2 linked regions of the Homo sapiens genome follow. The protein of the gene in region 1 purifies or fractionates together with the protein of each later gene. This does not show direct contact. Each region holds a gene or a part of one and is shown in the gene's direction. Other genes may lie near its edges.

The links.
Region 2: the proteins of DNAJC13 (region 1) and ATP6V1A purify together in Homo sapiens (co-immunoprecipitation; 2 studies listed by BioGRID and IntAct, with this or other methods). This does not show direct contact.

The regions. Positions count from the first base shown.
Region 1 is NC_000003.12:132,411,566-132,421,882, forward strand, and holds the start of DNAJC13 (dnaJ homolog subfamily C member 13), read left to right. Parts: upstream 1-5,936; 5' UTR 5,937-6,195; exon of another isoform or gene 6,196-10,152; intron 10,153-10,317.
Region 2 is NC_000003.12:113,790,832-113,800,275, forward strand, and holds part of ATP6V1A (V-type proton ATPase catalytic subunit A), read left to right. Parts: intron 1-4,040; coding exon 4,041-4,163; intron 4,164-4,258; coding exon 4,259-4,373; intron 4,374-5,044; coding exon 5,045-5,108; intron 5,109-7,411; coding exon 7,412-7,615; intron 7,616-9,444. UniProt on the Homo sapiens protein: Catalytic subunit of the V1 complex of vacuolar(H+)-ATPase (V-ATPase), a multisubunit enzyme composed of a peripheral complex (V1) that hydrolyzes ATP and a membrane integral complex (V0) that translocates protons.

The DNA.
Region 1 (10,317 bases):
TGGCTTTGTTAGTATGTGCTTTTTATTTTGGTTTACATTGATTTACTTTTTTTTTTCTCAGACTTCACTGTATAGATTTGAGAACCAATAACTTTACAAGCTAATTAGTTGAGCTTGAAATACTACTTCTTTTATGTTTTATTTTCCTTTACGCTAAGTAGGTGGCTGCCACCTCATTTACTGTTGCTCACAAAAAGAAAAAAAAATCATCTTTTCATTGACAAAATTAAGTTTTACATGGAAATAACAGTCATATCATCTTTATATGCTCAAAGCCAGCAATAATTTGGGTAATGAAGTTTTATGTTCTCAGATAGGCATAATATGAATAAGTTATTATCCAAGATTAATGAATAGATATCCTTTCCTTCTATGTGGTTGCAATGATCTTTAACAAAATTAGTGGGAAAAAAAAGCTTTTGTTGCACCTGATTAACTCACCTTGATTTAGGCGTGAATGAGTCATTGTCATTCTAAGAACTTCCTCATGGTCAAGTTTTGGATCACCATTTTTAAAATATATTGTGACTGTCGAAATTCCATGCATGTAAGACTTTTTTGCATTGTTAACATTCACAGATGAATTGAACAAGTCAACTCTGTGTTCTCCATAATAAATAAAATGAACTATTTAATGATGTCTCATGATAGGAGTATTCAAATATGGTTGTCAAGAATGAACACTTGAACTTTCCCCATTCTGCTAATAATACAGAATATCTGCTTATCTGACATTCTGTATTATTAGCATCTGGTTAGTCCTCTGATGATAACTACAGCAAACCTGTTTCATTTAAAAACGCAAGGACAAGGATTACATAAAGAAGCTGGAGACCCTGATATTAACTATAGTGTGTGCTCAGTAATGAACTGCTCTATATAAGTTATTATCTGTATTATCTTCATCTGGTTAGTCCTCTGATGATAAGAACTACAGCAAACCTGTTTCATTTAAAAACTCAAAGACAAGGATTACATAAACAAGCTGGAGACCCTGATATTAACTATAGTGTGTGCTCAGTAATGAAGTGCTCTACATAAGTTATGTAACTCCTGCAAATGTCTCTCAAGGTAGGTATCAATATCTGAAGTTTACAGAAGAGGGAACTAAGACTCAAAGAGGATAACGAACTTGCCTGTGAGTTTTTTAAACTACATTATATTTCCTTCAAGTGCTGATGACTAAAAATGTCTGAATATAATAATTTCATAGCAGATTGGAAATCTTGTTCACTTCAAAACCCTTTATGGAAAAAACCACATAAGGTTCTTGAGTTTTCTCAAATCTGATAATACAAGAAGTATTTGAATTAATTAGTAAGAACACCTGAATTAGAAAACCCTCAGCAGTGTATATATTGTAAAAGAGCAGTTGTGGTAAAATTTAATAAGGAAAAAGAACACAGGCCTTTTTCTTAACCAGTTAAAATTTCAATAATAGTTTAAAATTGTTAGACCACAGAATAAGTTATTTTCTTTTCCCTCCTCATCCATCTTTGAAAATATAATCAAATCTAGATAATTTCCTGTAATTAAATGAAAGCATGTTTTTGTTAATAAAATATTATAAATTCAAAATCCTTTATATATGAACATCATTATACTATTTAAAAAGATATTTTAATTCACATTAATAATAAAACTAGACTTCCTGGGGTAGGATTAAGTGAGCTGGGGAAGCCAGGCTATCAGTTACAAAAAAAAAAAATTGTGGATCCTATATATATATACAGATACATATGTATATATGTCAAGAAATTCTCATGTCATAATTTGTCATATGTTGTAAATAATTTCAATTATTTGAATTACAGTATAGAGAAACACAGAAAACTAAATACGTGTGGCCAGATAAATCTTGAGAAAAACCACTAAAGACAAACAACCAACCAATCACATAACAAATTAAAATGAAGTCCAGTAGAAGATTCTGTGGAAGCTTCAAGCTCACCAACTCGACGTAGTTGTTTTCTGACACTTACTGTTTGCTTGCACAAGATTTTCTAATAGCAGTATTGTCCAAGAGAAATACAATGGGAGCCATATATTTAATTTTACATTTACTAGTAGCTACATTCCTTAAAAGAAACAAGTGAAATTAATTTTAATAACATTTTATTTAACCAAATATACAGCCATAATATTATCATTTCCACATGTGACAAAGAGTCTTTGCTCAGCCAAATTTTAATCAGGCTTCTGAACCTTTCCTTAGGCCCCTCTGTGTGCTTCCTTGAAAAGTCTAGTCTGCAAAAGAACCTGGCTAAGTCAGTTTAGCCAAAATTCCCTCGATATGTGATCAGATTCCTCATCTTTCACCTTCCCCCAGAAGATGTCTAATCACTCTGGCCTGTCTTTAGCAAGAATCCTGTTACGTAGGTTTAGCCAGGATCCCCGCTCACCCCTGATGTTTTCTCTTAGTAATTTTCCATCCACTGACCCCCACACACTGTTCCTTGGAGATAAATGCATACTTGCCCGTGTCGTTTTCCGACCTGAGCCCCGTCTCTCTCCCTTACTGCAAGCCCCTGTTGCAGTGGCTCCTGTACCTATTGTAATGATCGTAAATAAACTGAATAAAATCTTTTTTGTGGGGAGCAGGGGGTACAGGGTCTTTCTCTGCTGCCCAGGCAGGAGTGCAGTGGCACAATTATAGCTCACTGTAACCTCGAACTCCTGGGCTCAAGAGATCCTCTCACCTCAGCCTCCTGAGTAACTAGCACTACAGGGGCATGCCCCCATGCCCAGATAATGCTTTTATTTTTATTATTTTGTAGCAATGGGGTCCCACTACATTGCATAGGCTGGTCTCAAACTCCTGGCCTCAAGTGATCCTCCTGACTTGGCCTCCCAAAGCCTTGGGATTACAGGTGTCAGCCATCATGCTCAGCCTATTACCAAGCTTTAACAAGTATCATTAAATAATACTTTTTTTTTTTTTGAGAGTTTCACTCTTGTTGCCCAGGCTGGAGTGCAGTGGCACCATCTCGGCTCACTGCAACCTCCCCCTCCCAGGTTCAAGTGATTCTCCTGCCTCAGCATCCCGAATAGCTGGGATTACAGGTATGCACCACCAGGCCCGCCTAATTTTTTTATATTTAGTAGAGACGGGGTTTCATCATGTTGGCCAAGCTGGTCTCAAACTCCTGACCTCAGGTGATCCACCCGCCTCAGCCTCCCAAAGTGCTGGGACTACAGGCGTGAGCCACCGTGCCCGGCCTAAATATTTTTTTCTTTTAACACGTGTAATCAATATAAAAATTGCTAATGCAACATTTTACATTTTTTTGTAACAATTTTAATTTTTATTCTGTGTTCAGTAGCCACATAGGGCTAGTGGCTACTGTACTGAAAACATAGTTCAAGCATTGTTGAGTGGTATGAGTTCTTAAGGATTTACTTTGGATCTGGGCATTGATATAATTAGGAAGGTCAATTTAGCAGCAATGGGAATTAGATAAGCAAGTGTTTGACATTCTTGTGGGCTCTCTAAAGTCTTAGATCACTCCAGCCTTGTATGCTAACTTTGGAGACTGATAAAGGCTATTGGTGCCTAAAAGGCTGTGAAATGTATTTTTTAAAAAGCTGTGAAATATTTTAAGTGTACATCACATAATTTAGATTGTAAATTTGATACATCTGCACTATGAAAGTGTCAGAAACGCTAGTGCAAACTTTAATTATGAATAAAAAGACAAATCCAGAAAAAGAAGTGTGCATTTGTCACTCTTAAAAAAGAGTTGGGTGGGGAAAGGATCCAACTGATTTAACCTAATAGGGAAAGAAGAGACAAGTCCTACTCTCCCTGACTCTTGTATTTTGTTGTGGCATTTTAAGAAGGATCCAATTGTATGGATCCAATTAAAAGCAACCAGTGGTTGTGAAAAGGCTTGAAACTACATCTTGTGAACAATGGTTGAAAGTACTTTGAATATGGTTTCTTAAAATGAGTATCTGTAGCAGGGGTAGTTAGAAGGATATGCACGGGAGAGGGAGTGGGAAAGGGTGATAAGCTGTACTGATAAGTGCTTAAATGAATGTCACATACAAGAAGAAAAGAGCAAGAAACAAAGACAAAATAACTACTCATAGAAGAGAGTGCAAGTTGGCTGAATACAAGGAAAATGGCTTATAAAAATGCAATGGAAAAAGATGTCTTGTGAGGCAATTTTGCACTACAGAGGATGGGGACAATTCATGATGCCTAAGGCTCCTCTCAACACGAGAATTGATTTTATTGGTCTCAAATATTGAACAGAGAGGCAGTGTGGAGGTTGAACAGTTCACTGGCCTTGATGTTACAGGCAGGCCCTGTGTCTTAATCTTGGCTCAACCTTTAGGAGTTAGGTCACCTTTAGCAAGTCTCCTGGACTCTCTGGGTCTGCTGCTTCTCTAAAATCGAAATAATATACCCCACATTTACTTTTGGGATTACTGGAAGGCTTTGTAACCACATAAACACGTTTCTGTTTCCATGGGATAAGCCAATAAGGCCCCTTAACACAGCCCTCCTGTTTCTTTTTCCTCCTCCTCCCTTCCTACTCTATTTCGGGTTCTGTCTTCCCACACCCAGCTATTCCTAGTACCTTCCCTTACATGCACCTTATCTTACTGCTGCATTACAGAAAAGTCTAAGGATAAACACAAATAGTCTTTTTCCGCCCTAAGGTAGGGCAAAGGGTTAATAGAATCAAGAGGTAAAGTCTGTAAAAACCATTTTTCCACATTTTTTCATCCTGCAATCGCTGTCTATAAAATGAGCCAACTTGCTGAAGGGGACGCCAAGAAATCACAATTTCAGGACTGCCATGAAGAATGAGTATTCAACTCCTTATCAGAGACCTTTAACCCTTATACAATAATGTATCCATGCAGGTCACCCTACACTGCCTCTACTCTGAAGTCTGCAGCAGAATCACTATTTTTTTTTTAATCACTAATTTTTAAACTGTGGTCTTTACGGCTCAGATCTGGGAGTGGACATTGACCTTTCTTATTTAAACCATTGCCCACAGATAACACATAATTTCTAGCCGAATCCTTTAGTCCCAATATCCCCTCTTTTCACTGCCCTGACTTCCCTCTCAGGTGAGGTTCAGGAAGATGGTTATCTAGAGGGCACAGGTTCTGGGTTCAAATTACTTGGGTGCAAACATGAAATCCACTACTCTGAGGCTGGGCCTCAACTTATCTGCAAAACGAGGATGATTCGTATCTCAGAGAGTTGAAGATTAAGCAGCTTTAAGTAAACTTCTAAACACTTGATCCGGACACAATAAATGGGGCTACCAGAACTATCTTTCCAGCATTCCCACCTGCAAATGCCTTAGGCGTCTCTGAGAATTTGGTCTCTGAGACCTTCCAGAGCATCCATAACTTAAACCCTGCTCTGCTGTCGTTCAGGACGTCTCAATAGTAAATGAACCTGCTGGCTCCCAATCCAGCCAAACCAGGAGATAGGCTGAGGCTTCAGACTGCCTCGCAGATGCTCCATGGCACTTGACGGCAAGAGCTAAAAAGAGGTGATTTAAAACAAGATTTCCTCGGACTTAAAGCTTAAGTACCGGGTTGCGACCCTACTCTCCGCAGGACATAAGCGGAGGGGCGCGGCCCTAAGGCACACGCCGGAGGGGCGTGGTCATGGGCACCCGCCGGAGGGGCGTGGTCATGGGCACCCGCGCGCGCCCAGGGGCGTGTCCTTTTCAGCACCCACCGAGGCGCCAGCCCCCTGACGCGCTGCGTGGAATCCAAATCCCACGGCCGGTGTCGTTACTCTGCGCATGTGTAGCTGCTGGGGGCTGGCCGGAGGAAAGCAGAATTTCAGGGAAAGAACGATCGGGACGGGGAGGACGGGGAGGGCGGGGCAGAAGACGGAAGAGTTGAAATCAGCTGACTGGGTCTCGTGACAGCCTGGGCGGTGGCGACGCAGGCGTATTAGAGCGCGCTCGCTCAAAGCCTGAGCGAAGATGGCGGCCTCCAGAGTGAAACTCTGAGAGGCAGAGGGAGGAGGCGGAGGGGGCGGGGAGGCAGCGCCGCGGCGGCACCAGGAACCCGCGGCAGCGGAGCTGCAGGGCCCCGGCGGGGGAAAGGGGAAGTGGTGAGGGTGAGGAGGCCGGAGGGCGCCTCATCCCACTCTGGAAGCTGAGCCGGCGGCGGGAGGAGCTAGGGCTGGAGCCTCTCCAGCCTCCCGCGAAGGTAAAGCCGACTCCGGGCACTGGGCTCTGGGGCTCTGCCTTACTCCCTTCCCACGCCGTGGGGACTTTGTGGGGCTCAGGGCAGGGAAAACGGGGTGGTCTTGGCTGCTGCAGCCTGCAGCTGCTAAGGAAGCAGATTACCCTTCCCCCAGGCTGCTGGTCTGGTTCCTTTCGTTGGACGCCCCCCCGGCTTTGAGTGACATTAGCTCAGGGCGCTGCCCTGTCCAGCCCCACCCCTTTTTTTTGCTTGTTTTATACCTAGTACGCTCCTCCACTCGCCTTAACATATCCTTACCCCACAGGCTCTTCATTCCCTTGTGGGTTCCGCCCTCGGGATTCCCTTCCAGTCTCCTAGTCTGAGCACCCTTCCTGCTGGATGCCGGCAACTCTTGTTTCCTTGGGTCAGCGACCCTCCTTCCGAACAAGTCCTGCAGACTGACTTTCTTTGCTTTGTTTCGTTTTGTTAGGAAATGAGCATCCGCGTCGTCTGTTCTCCAGTACTTTTTCTAAAATCATTTTCTCCCCTAAGGCTTTTCCTTCCTGCAAGGCAGCTTATTCACGTGGCCTTTCCTCCGCTGCTGTGATTTTATCTTTGAATGTGGCCTTTGGAGTGGGTAAAGTAGGACTTAGACGCTCAGTGAAGTGGCTGTTAATCACTTGATACTTAACTATGTTTAAGAGTGCCTTCCCTTAAATTTTCTCCTTTTGTAGCGTGTTCCGTTAACCACGTTTGTCTTAAGATTGTTTCCTGTGTCCGTTGCTTAGAGGGGGGAAAAAAGTAAAGATTTCACCCTAATGTGGCGGTGGTCTCCCAAAGTAATTATTTCTCATTTTCCCTCTGCTTTTCCCTTTTACGTTATTCTGATTTCCCTCAAAAAGGAGGTTCTGTACCTGATGCTGTTGCGTCCTCTATGAAGGGCTTTATAGTGTACAGTTATGTTGAGCCTTTTGTAATACAGTGTCTTGGGGAAAAAAGTAGAAGTTCAGAACCTGCCCCCAGTAATTCTTTCTTACTATATTTTCTTTCTCAGTTTATGGACTTGATAGGTTTCTAGGTTTGAAACTACTGCCTGCAGGGAAAATTACAGTGATAAGGTTTTATAATATATTACCAGTACTTTGAGTTTATGGGAGTATGAAACAGAATTTGCCTTAAAAAAATAAATTTATAGAAACCACTTGTCAGAAATTCGGTATCCAGAACACAGTTCTTTGATTTTTGGAAAGTACTTTATTGGCTTATCTATCATATAACGTAAAACCTTGTTCACATTTTGTGTAATGTGAAACGCTTTTTAAGCTACTATATCTCAGACTTGGCTTGTGCTGTTAGTATCACAATGCATTCAGGCAACACACGTCCTTGTGTAGAAATTATTACATTATACTCCTTGTTTGAAAACAGGAAGTAGAACATATTAAGGGAGGAAAAGAGGAGTCAGAGGATTATTAAGAAATAAGAATGTAAAGAACCTTAAGGCTAGAGTTCAGTTCATGGAAAATATCAGCATTTGTATTCCACTGAGAGGCAATGAATATTCCTCTTTTTCTAAAGTGGTAGTAATAAATAGTCTAAAATATATTAATGTTATATATTGTTAACAAGCTTAGTTGTAAACAAAATACTTAAGCTAAAAAATAAAATATTAATAAGTGAATGAATTGTTTGGAATAATTTAACTTTATCCACAAATAAATAGAAGATGGTTGCCTTGCCCAGGTGGACTGTAACAATACTGGCTTTATTAAATTTGTTAAAAGGTTGATAGTGGAGTCCGGTTCTCAATAGGTCCCAAATTAGGGTTGAAATTGAAAAGATGTGTTTTAACTAATTTGGCTTCATTCCTCAACCAGTTCTGTTTACACAGGTGAATATGAGGTTTCTGCTACACATACCTTTCCCCTGCTTCTGATTGAGGTACTTTAAATTAGTAATTGAAACAAGGCTGTGCAGATAAACTGCAGCACAAATTTGGTTGCTACAAATAGGTTTTGGCCTAAATGTTCACTGTAAAACATGGCAGTAGTTAAAGGGGAGTTATTAATATTTTGAAAGAGTTCCTTGAGTCAGTGTTTCTCAACTTTATTAGACCCAATAAAGGCTCCCTTTTTATAAAAAATAATTAGTAACACCTTCTTTGCTATCTTTAGTTTATAAATAATGTAACTACCTCTGGCTTTGGCCCTGAGACAAAAAAAGAAGCTTTGCTCTCACTTCTGCAACAAAAAAAGACCTACACTACAAATTCATGACTTTTTTGAAATCTATTAAAGAGCTGAGTCCACAGAGCAAAACCACTGGCTGAAAATTTGAGAGACAGTGCTTACAGAGAGTAGATGTCAATTTCTGTTTACCGTCTTCAGACACAACTGGACAAAAAGCATGATGAAAGCTGAATGCACAATCTTGCAAACTCTTATCCACAAACCTCCCTGGGTCTACTAGAAAAGACTGGAAAGAACCCTGGGTGAGTCTGCTGTGCAGATTGAGAGGGAGAGGAACAGCAACAGAACTTTTAAGAGGGTCAAGAAACTGCTGTGATTCTTCCCCTCTGCCTCTTCTATGGAAAAAAGCTTTAATCTCTGGGGAGAAGGGTATCTCTGTTGGCCCCATTGGTGAACATTCAGGGGGTAGATGAGAAGTGGGAGAGAATCTTATGCCTGGAGGAGGGGCCCTGAGCCCAAAACTGCAGTCGGGAGTGGTCAACAGAACCGAGAGTGCTGCCCTCCTGAGATTCAGGAACACAGTGTTTGACTTAGACTTAATCAGAACATCAGACTGTATCCCCCACCCCCAACCCCCTGCCACCAAGCTAAGAAGCTTTCAGTAACAAGTAACCCACAAAATACTACTAGGAAAGGAACAAGATTATGCAAAGAGGCACAACACAAAGAATCAAACAGGCATTGCTCTAGTAAACCATCGCCCACCAGAGAGACAAACTGTTCTGCAGATTCATGAAGGCTGTAATACACTGAGGATAACTATGGCAAAAACAAATCATAAACTAAGTCCAACTCCTAACCAGATTAACACAAACCCTTCACCAAAGGCCTCACAAAGAACAGGCGTGCTCATTTCCAGTCATAAAAATTACCTCAATCTCTACTCCTACACAACATGTCCAGCTTTTAACCAAAAATTATGAGGCCCATGAAAAAAACTCCCAAGAGAAAGAGCAGTCATCATTATACATTTTTTAAAAAGATAGGAGCTTAAAAAGAACTGTTTTGTACATGTTAAATACTATAATAATGACATTTTGCCTTGAAAAAGTTTGAGCAAACAATGCAGTGAGCATTGGATGGAGTTATAGTTTCTGAATTACTGTGAAGTAGTAGAAGGAAAAAAAGTTATAAGATGGAGTGGAAAATTAGTAACATATATGTGAATGTATGTGGTTCATTGACCACCTGAAGTGTGTGTGTGTATTTTGTGAATTCCTGCATGACTCAGTTGGGTACAATTTTCTGCGTTCACTTAGTGTTGGGACAGAATCACTATAAGCAAATGTGACATTTTCATTATGCTCAAATTGTTCAGTAATACACCAATCCTGTTAAAATTCACATGATCAAGAAAGCATTATAGCAGAATTGACTATATGCATTTCAATATGTAAATAGTTAAGTATGATTATACCAAAATACACAAAGGACGTGTCAGAGGCTTGTATCTTTACATGGAATCATTTTGAGATTTTTTTTGTGTGTGTGAGAGACAATCTTGCTCTGTCACCCAGGCTGGAGTGCAGTGGCACGATCTTGGCTCACTGCAACCTCTGCCTCAGCCTCCTGAGTAGCTGGGACTACAGGCGCTTGCCACCATGCTGGGCTGATTTTTTTTTTTTTCTGTATTTTTAGGAGACAGAGTTTCACCATGTTGCCCAGGCTGGTCTCGAACTCCTGACCTCAAGTGATCCACCCACCCAGGCCTCCCAAAGTGCTGGGATTACAGGTGTGAGCCACCATGCCTGGCCCATTTTGATTTTTGACAGAAATGTTGATGTCTACAGATTTGTCACATTGGTGACTCAAATACCACAATTGAGATTATTAGCATTGTCAGAAAAGAACAGGGTTAATAAAGTATAATCTCTTAATTTACATTGCAGCCACATTC
Region 2 (9,444 bases), about 19 Mb from region 1:
AAACTTTAATAGTAGTTTGGCTGAGTATAAAATTCTTGATCAATATTTCTTTCTGTGAGAACTAGTATTAAATGCTGGGGACATTAAAAGCTGAAGCTGGCCTCTTTTTTTCCTTTTGTAGGTGATTTTTCTCTTTTCCCAAAGGACTTTCTCTTTAAATTTGAAGTCTCTTAACTTTATTAAGATATATTCCAATATTGATAGTTTCATTAAATTTTTCTGGATACATAATGTGCCCTTTTCATCTATGAAATATGTCTTTTATTTTGGAAAAATTTAGAAAATTGCATCTGAAACTTTTTCATTATGGCTGTCTTCTTCAAATATACCAACTAGACATGTTAGGTTTTTGTTATCTATTTTCCATGTGCATCATTTCCTCTCTACTCCTTTTTATTTAGCCTTGTGTCTGTTCACAGGATAAATGGTATTTATTCTTTGTGTTGCTTCTAATGAAACCTTCACTTCTATTTCTTTTTGTTCTTTCAGCTCATCAAGTATCTCTTCTTATCTTACTCCATATGCCTTGAGATTTTATTTTGTAGTAGGCTGCATTATTAGGGTTTTTTTTTTTTTTTAACTGTGGTCACAGTTTTCATTTATTCTTTGACAAGTTATTTGACCATCATTGTATTCTTCTCTTCTGTCTTTTTCCTTATTTTATTTTTGTTTAGATATCCTGTACTGATATTTATTATTACTATTACTCATCTTTGTAGGAGATGAGAGGGCTGGCTGTGACTGTGTACCAGGGTAGCAGGAATTCTTCATGGTAACTTGTGAAGTTTATTATGGCATGCAGCTGTGTAAAAAAGCTATTTTACTCTTCTTGCCTGATACCAGAAATCAGCAGCTGTAAGACCATTCACAGTGAATTCTCCTCTGTCTCACCCACTTTTCATTTAGTGAAAATAGGGAGTACCTACTTGTGTTTTATTCATCCCTATCTTCCTGCTTCTCTTTGATGCCAAACTGAGTACAAGGAACTCCTTCCTGCGACTGGCCATGTAGCTTTTTGCAGTGTTCCAAACAAAGCACTCTTGCTTTGTTTGGAAACAAACAAGGCACTTGAAGATGTGCCTTCAAGTTTGCAGAAGCTTTATCTGAGATGCATGGCCTCAGATGAATTCTTGGCATTTTTCCATACCCTTATTTGGTTTTCACCTTATTTAGGTGACTTTTTAAATTATATTGTTGTGGGACTATGTCTCCTAGTTTTTAATGACTAAATTTGTATTTCTGTATTTCTTGTTCTCCTTGTTTGGAGGTAAGTTTTATGAGGAAGAGACAGTGACATATTCATCTACCATTTTAAGAAAGCTACCTTATTCTTTTAAATGGCTGCACAGTATCCCTTTGTATGGATATATCATAATCAATTTAACTGGCATCTTTTTGGTGGACTATTGGATTCTTTATCGTCGTTTACGATAGGCAGCACTAAAACATCCTTAAACATATATTTTTACACTATTCTTTGTATGTTTTGCATGCATGTTTCTTTGCATGTTTTTTTTTTCCTTAGAGACAGGGTCTTGCTCTATCACCCAGGCTGAAGTGCAGTGGCATGTTCATGGCTCACTGCAGCTTTGACCTCCTGGTCTCAAGGGATCCTCTCATCTCAGCCTCCCAAGTAGCTGAGGCTACAGACATGAGCCACCATGCCTGGCTAATTTTTTTATTTTCTGTAGAGATGGGGGTCTCACTATGTTGCCCAGGATGGGCAACTTCTAGCCTCAAGAGATCCTCCTGCCTTGGCCTCCCAAAGTCCTGGGATTATAGGCATGAACCACCATGCTTGGCCTCTTTGTACATTTCTTAGGGTAATTTCTTAGAAGCAAAATTCCTGCCAATACAGCTGCTAATTATTATTTTACATTCTGATAGCCCTTCAAAAGGGCTAACTGTGGACAAGAGTTTCTGCTTCTCAACATCTTCACCAATGCTAGTTTTTTCAACACGTTCTTATGATAATTATCAAAGATACGGAAAAGTTGAAAGAATGTTACAGTGAATACCATGTACCCAGCACTTAGATTTGACAATTGAAATTTTAACTATTCTTGCTTTATTAGATACCTGTTCAATCTGTATTTAACAATGAACTAGCATCTTTCTTGTGTGTATGAACCATTTAAAAACTGCCTTGTGTTCATTTTCCTTTTGGATGATAGTTGTTTTTCATACTGATTTCTAGAAACTCTTTTTGGTTTTTTGTTGTTTTTTTTTGTTTGTTTGTTGGTTTTGAGACAAAGTCTCACTCAGTCACCCAGGCTGGAATGCAGTGGTGCGATCTTGGCTCACTGCAGCCTCTGCCTCCTGGATTCAAGCAGTTCTACAACCTCAGCCTCCCGAGTAGCTGGGATTACAGGCATGCACCACCACCACACCTGGCTAATTTTTGTATTTTTAGTAGAGATGGGGTTTCACCATGTTGGCCAGGCTGGTCTCGAACTCCTGACCTCGGGGGATCTGCCCACCTTGGCCTCCCAAAGTGCTGGGATTACAGGCTTGAGCCACCGCGCCTGGCCAGAAACTCTTTGATTAATGAATAAATTCGTCCTTTATCTGTCATGAGTTGCAAATATGTCCCAGCTTGTTTATCTCTTGATTTTGTCTGAGGCATATTTTTCTTGTAGGCACTGATACCTGTAGGTCTGTCAGAGAATTCTCACTTACTCATATGTATCTGTCTTTTCTGCCATTTCTTTCTAATATCACAAGTATCTGTGACATTTCATCACAGATTTAAAACACAGCATGCTTGTATAAGAAAGAATCTGTTCTTATTAGATTGGAATATGTGGTAATTATTGTGTTGTTGAAGCCTTAATATTGATAAGTAATGTTTCCTAAAGACTTTCTTCATGAGACCATTTTATGGATGCCTGAACAGTCAGTATTTTTTATTCTGAAAGATGCAATATGATAAATAGGAAAGTACTGAATTTTCCACTAATTATGTTAATTTTACTTATATAAACCTCTGTTTCTTTACCAGTAAAATAAAAAAACCAAGGCATTATAAAAGTTCCAAAATCTTTTGGAACTTTTATAATATAACTATATATTTTTCCTAATATCTTAGTGTTTCATAGCGCTTTGTACTTTTTAGATGACATTTATTTAATTCACTTCATCTGCCATATATACAAGTATATAGGGCAGGCGTTATTCCATTTTTAATAGGTTAGGAAGCCACACTGGGAAATCAAGTTATTTTGCTAAGGTTAATGACAGAATAGGAACTAGAACCCAACACTCGTTTCTGTATATTAGCTGCTTATAAGTGGTTTACTGTCTAAATTTACAGGATAGGACCTGATCTGCATAGCAGAATAATCTGGACAATTAAGATATTACTCATTTTAATAACATTTGCTACTTTTGAAAAGTAACCACCCAAGCTGATTGGTTAAGGGTTACTTTTGCATGCATACATGTTTGTGTGTGTGTATGTGATATATAGAGAGAAGCTACATTTGAAAATTAATTTCAGACTTAATTATTTCAACAAAGAATAGAGAAAGTCATTTCCTGCTTTCTAAAATGTGCATTATATTAGGGCCAGCTAGGCTATGGCATCAAATAATTCCAAATATATATTTGCTCAATATAATAGATGTTTATTTCAAGTGTTCAGGGCACTCTTTACTCTGTCATTCTGAGCCATGATCCAGCCTGAAATGAGCTCTACCATTTTCAACACATGGCTTCCAAGACTACTGGGAGTTCTTTCCATTTCAGTAGGCCAGAAGGAAGAAAGAGTATGGAAGAGCGTGTGACTTGCCTGACCGTAGAACACATTATTTTGACTTGAGTTTTGTTAGCCAGAGATCAGTTACATGGCCATATCTAAGTGCACAGGATGCTAGGAAACAATTCAGTGTGTGCCCAGAAAAAGAGGAAGAGCAGCTTTGAGGGAGCCACTAGCAGTCTACGTTGTGTACTTATTGCTTTAAGGTTTTCTTAAGGGTGGAAAAAAACAGGATTTTTATATGCTAGCATTGTAACTTATAATAATATTCTTCCCAATTTAGGAATCACACTGTCAGAGTACTTCCGTGACATGGGCTATCATGTCAGTATGATGGCTGACTCTACCTCTAGATGGGCTGAGGCCCTTAGAGAAATCTCTGGTCGTTTAGCTGAAATGCCTGCAGGTAAGTCTGTGTATTGCTTATCATGTAAACAAGACTGATGGGATTTTCGGGGCTGGCTTAGAAACTCTGTTTTAAAATTTCTTTTCATTTTTCAGATAGTGGATATCCAGCCTATCTTGGTGCCCGTCTGGCCTCGTTTTATGAACGAGCAGGCAGGGTGAAATGTCTTGGAAATCCTGAAAGAGAAGGGAGTGTCAGCATTGTAGGAGCGTAAGCACCCACACTATTTACTTTGCAAAAGGAAAAAAGTCACAGATGTATTAAAGAGAGAAAAAAAGTCACTTATTTTAAAGAGAGAATATTTAGCTCCCGCTGGGAGCAGCGGTTCTTAAGGAGGGTTGCACTCCAGAGTCACCTAAGGAGCTCTTTGAAGATGCACATGTTTAGGCAATTTCTACATGTCCTGGTTCCATAGGTTTGACTTTAATTTATATATTTATATGTTTAATTTAGATATTTATTTAATTTTTATAATTTAGAAAATTATAGACATAATAAGGTGAGATTGCATCACGGTAAAAAGAAAGTGAAGATTCGTGATCACTACATAAAGCCATACTTTTTTCTTAGAGCGTTTCCTCCTTGCTTCATCTATTTGATTAGAATAATAAAATTGATTATAATAAAATATCTATCTCATGTCTCATAATAGAAGGTGTTCTGTAGTTTCTATTGTTGTTTACAACTTAAATACTGGCTTTTGTTTAAGATTTTTAGGTAAGATTTTCTTTCCAAAGGTCATTTCTAAAGTTATTTACATTAAAAAGTTATTTACATTAAAATCGACTTTAAAAAAAGTTAACATTTATATATATGTTATTTTTCATAAGCATTTCTAATGACCATTTTTTTTGTAATGACCATATTTTTTTTAAATTTAGAGTTTCTCCACCTGGTGGTGATTTTTCTGATCCAGTTACATCTGCCACTCTTGGTATCGTTCAGGTATGTCTTTCCCTAGTATAGTCAACTTCTGAGCCTTTCCTCCTCTCTGCAGCCCCTGCTGTTCTAATGCGATCTAATGTAATCGTTGTGAAGTATTTAATTTAGTCTCTAAAGGATAGGCAATGGTAAAGTCTGGTTTAGAAACACTCTTAACACAGAGCCTTTAATACTGTCTGTTTTTTTCTTAGCTGTTTACATAGGATTTATAATAAACTTAATAATATATAAGTGGAAAATATAGGTAGCAAAAATTTTATTAGTATTAGAGTAGTATTATCCTTTAAGTCATAGTAACCCTAGTTATAGAAACAAAGAGGCCCAAAAATGTGTAATACCCAGAAGTTATTTCACTTCACAGTATGATCCAAGGCTCTCTTCTGTTTAGTGATAATTCTGAGTCCAGGATTCTTTCCATCTTGTGACTCCACTGTCACCTAGCCTGGTGATCATCTGCATCTAGCTGACACAAGGGAGCTGGGCCTTGTGGAGAAGGCATACCCACCTTTTTTGAACCTTGGATTCAAAAGTGACACAGTCACTCCACTCATTCTATTAGCCACATCCAGGTGAAAGCAAGGCTGGAAAATGCAGTTTCTGCCTAAGCATTTGCTTTCCAGTGACAAGACATGAATTTTAGTGGATAGGTAGCCAGCTTGGCTATTAAAAGAAGCCCAAATAAAAGATGTGTACAAATCAGAGCTATAGTTAAAAAAAAAAAGTGATATGTGTATATTATTCATGTGGGAAAAACAGAATATTTACTTGTGTTTCTGACAGTATCAGAGAAAAGGAAATGTCAGAGGCTAAATGTACAACTCTCAAGCTTTTTAACGTTTGCTAAAATTTTGAGTTTTAAATTATGGGGAAAGAGGGAACAGAGTTAGAAATGCATGGAATATCTGTGAATGTTTGCCCTTACAAAAATCACTGTCAGTTGTTGTTGGATTGGCCCTGTGAATGATAGGCAACTAAATTTAATCAAAACACTTAGATGTTTTTGTTTTGTTTGTTTTGATACGGAGTTTCACTCTTGTTGCCCAGGCTGGAGTGCAATGGCACAAACTTAGCTCACTGCAACCTCCACCTCCCGGGTTCAAGTGATTCTCCTGCCTCAGCCTCCCAAGTAGGTGGGATTATAGGCACCCGCCACCACACCTGGCTAATTTTTTGTGTTTTTAATAGAGACAATATTTCACTATGTTGGCCAGGCTGGTCTTGAACTCCTGACCTCAGGTGATCCACCCGCCTCAGCCTCCCAAAGTGCAGGGATTACAAGCGTGAGCCACCATGCCTGGCCCAGAACAGTTAAAAAAAAAATTTTTTTTTTTTTGAGATGGAATCTCACCCCCATCATGCAGGCTGGAGTGCAGTGGCGTGATCTCAGCTCACTGCAACCTTCATCTTCCGGGTTCAAGCAATTCTTCCTCCTCAGCCTCCCAAGTAAGCTGGCATTACAGGCATGCGCCACCACCACGCCCGGATAATTTTTGTATTTTAGTACAGACAGGGTTTTGCCATGTTGGCCAGGCTGGTCTCGAACTCCTGACCTCAGGTGATCCACCTGCCTCAGCCTCCCAGAGTGCTAGGATTACAGGCGTGAGCCACCATGCCTGGCCAGTTAGAGGTTTTTAATCAAAGTAAAGTGTGTATTCGATCTACATAAACCTTTTCTGGTTCTATTGTACCATAATAATTTTCAAAAGAGTAAATTAATTTTTCTTTTTGCTTTTGGATTTGGCACAGTATTAAGAAAATAGAGGTAAATTTTAAATTCGATTTGTAGGTATTATGCACTTGGAAAATGAAAGGAAATAGATTATTGTCATTTTCTGCAAGTTTTATTCTGTTTTAATTTTACTTAGTATATACTAAAACGATGTATAATTTGACCAGTGAATTGTAGAATTGCATATTTAGGGGTCAGGCATGGTGGCTCATGCCTGTAATTCCAGCACTTTGGGAGGCCAGGGATCACATGAGGTCAGGAGTTCGAGACAAGCCTAGCCAACATGGTGAAACCCCATCTCTACTAAAAGTACAAAAATTAGCCGGGCCTGATGGCGCATGCTTGTAATCCCAGCTACTGGTGAGGCTGAGTCAGGAGAATTGTTTGAACCCATGAGGTGGAGGTTGTAGTGAGCCGAGATCATGCCACTGCACTCCAGCCTGGGTGACAGAGCAAGCCTCTGTCTCAAAAACAAAAAAAAAAGAATTGCATAGTTGGGACAAACATGCTTCGGTATTTTTTAACTTTGTTTTTTGAGAAAAATTACTGTTTTTGTGTGTGTGTTTTTTTTAATCAGGTGTTCTGGGGCTTAGATAAGAAACTAGCTCAACGTAAGCATTTCCCCTCTGTCAATTGGCTCATCAGCTACAGCAAGTATATGCGTGCCTTGGATGAATACTATGACAAACACTTCACAGAGTTCGTTCCTCTGAGGACGAAAGCTAAGGAAATTCTGCAGGAAGAAGAAGACCTGGCAGAAATTGTACAGCTTGTGGGAAAGGTGAGTTGTTAAATTCCATGGAAGATAGATCTGTGGGTTACACTGGGGTGTTTCAAGGACAGATAGAGCCTTGGATATTACAGATTCTTGCCTAGCAAAATAAATATTTATTAAATATTTTTAATTGAAATTTTCTATTCATTATAGTACTTAGCATGGTTTTTGGGTATATTGTATGTGAGAAAGAAACATTTGATTTACTTTTATCTTGAAATGGAATATACCCATCACCAACCAAATTAGAGGTAGTAGATTTAGGATTTGTTAGCATACATTTTTGTAGGAATGCTAGGGCTAGGTTTCAGAAGGATTGGCTTCTAGTTCCTCCAATAATTAGCTATTGGCCTTAAACAGGTGAGTTACATTCTTGTGCCTGTATCTTGGATTCTTCAAGGAAAGATGGTGTAATTAAATTTAGGCAAATTAAATGCCAGAATGAAAAGACTTCTCAGATAGTATGCAATGCTAGTTAGTACTCAGAGTTCTTTGTCTGGTTTTGTTCTTTTTATTACATGTTACAAAGTCATCTCCTAATTTATTCCAAAAAAGGTTAATATTAGGAGATAGCTAACATTCTAACATGTATTACTACTTACTATTTATAGAATAAAAATATTCTCTTATCTGCCCAATAAGAGAAGCAAGAAACAGGAAGAACTGCAAAACCAGATAAAGACAATACAAGAAAGGAAAACTATAGGCTAATATTGTTGATGAATGTAGGTATGAATGTAGATACTTAATAAAATATTAAATATTAGTGTATGAGGTCTAGTAGGATATTAAAGAAAATAAAATGATACATCATAAGCAAGTTTATCTCAGGAATGTCCATATTAGACACAGAAAATCTATTGTAATTCACTAATGTAATAATACAATGGAAAAAGGATATCTCAGTTAATGTGGAAAAATATTTGAAGTTTATTACAATTTTTAGAAACATCTTAGCAAACAAGGAATAGAACGGAACTTCCTTAATGTGTTAAAAGTAATATACTAAGACCTAGGGAAACCACTTTACTTACTGGAGAAATTTCAGATGCATTTCATTTAAAAACTAGGATTAAGACCAGCATGCCTAATCTCATCACTGTGTTCTGTCAAATACCAGAGATCATAACCAATGATGTAAGAAGAGAAAAAAGAAAAGTTGCAAAGAAAGAGATAACAGTGTCATTGTTTGTAGATAATATGCTCATATACTAGAAATATAACAGAATTAACAGAGAAACAAATAATAAGAGTTCACTGGGGTGTTATGATTCAAGATAAACACAGATCAAGAGAATGTCTCTACACTAGCAGTACCAACTAGAAAATAAAAGTAAAAATAAGATGTTCTCAATAGCAACAAAAACTAGAGTGTAGGAACTAACCAGAAATATATATTTCTTCTATGAAAACCACTTTTAAACTAATAAATGAAACAGAAGATGATATGAAAATAGAAACAGTCCATGCTCTTGGACGGAATGACTTATTAAAAAGACGCCACTTCTCAGCCAGGCGTGGTGGCTCACACTTGTAATCCCAGCACTTTGGGAGGCAGAGGTGGGCAGATCAACGAGGTCAGGAGTTCAAGACCAGCCTGGCCAGCATGGTGAAACCCTGTCACTACTAAAAATACAAAAAATTAGCTGGGCATGGTGGCGCACCCCTGTAATGCCAGCTACTTGAGAGGCTGAGGCAGGAGAACTGCTTGAACCTGGGAGGCGGAGGTTGCAGTGAGCCGAAATCACGCCACTGCACTCTAGCCTGGGTGACAGAGTGAGACTCCATCTCAAAAAAAAAAAAAAAAGACGCAATTTCTCTTTAATCTGTAAATT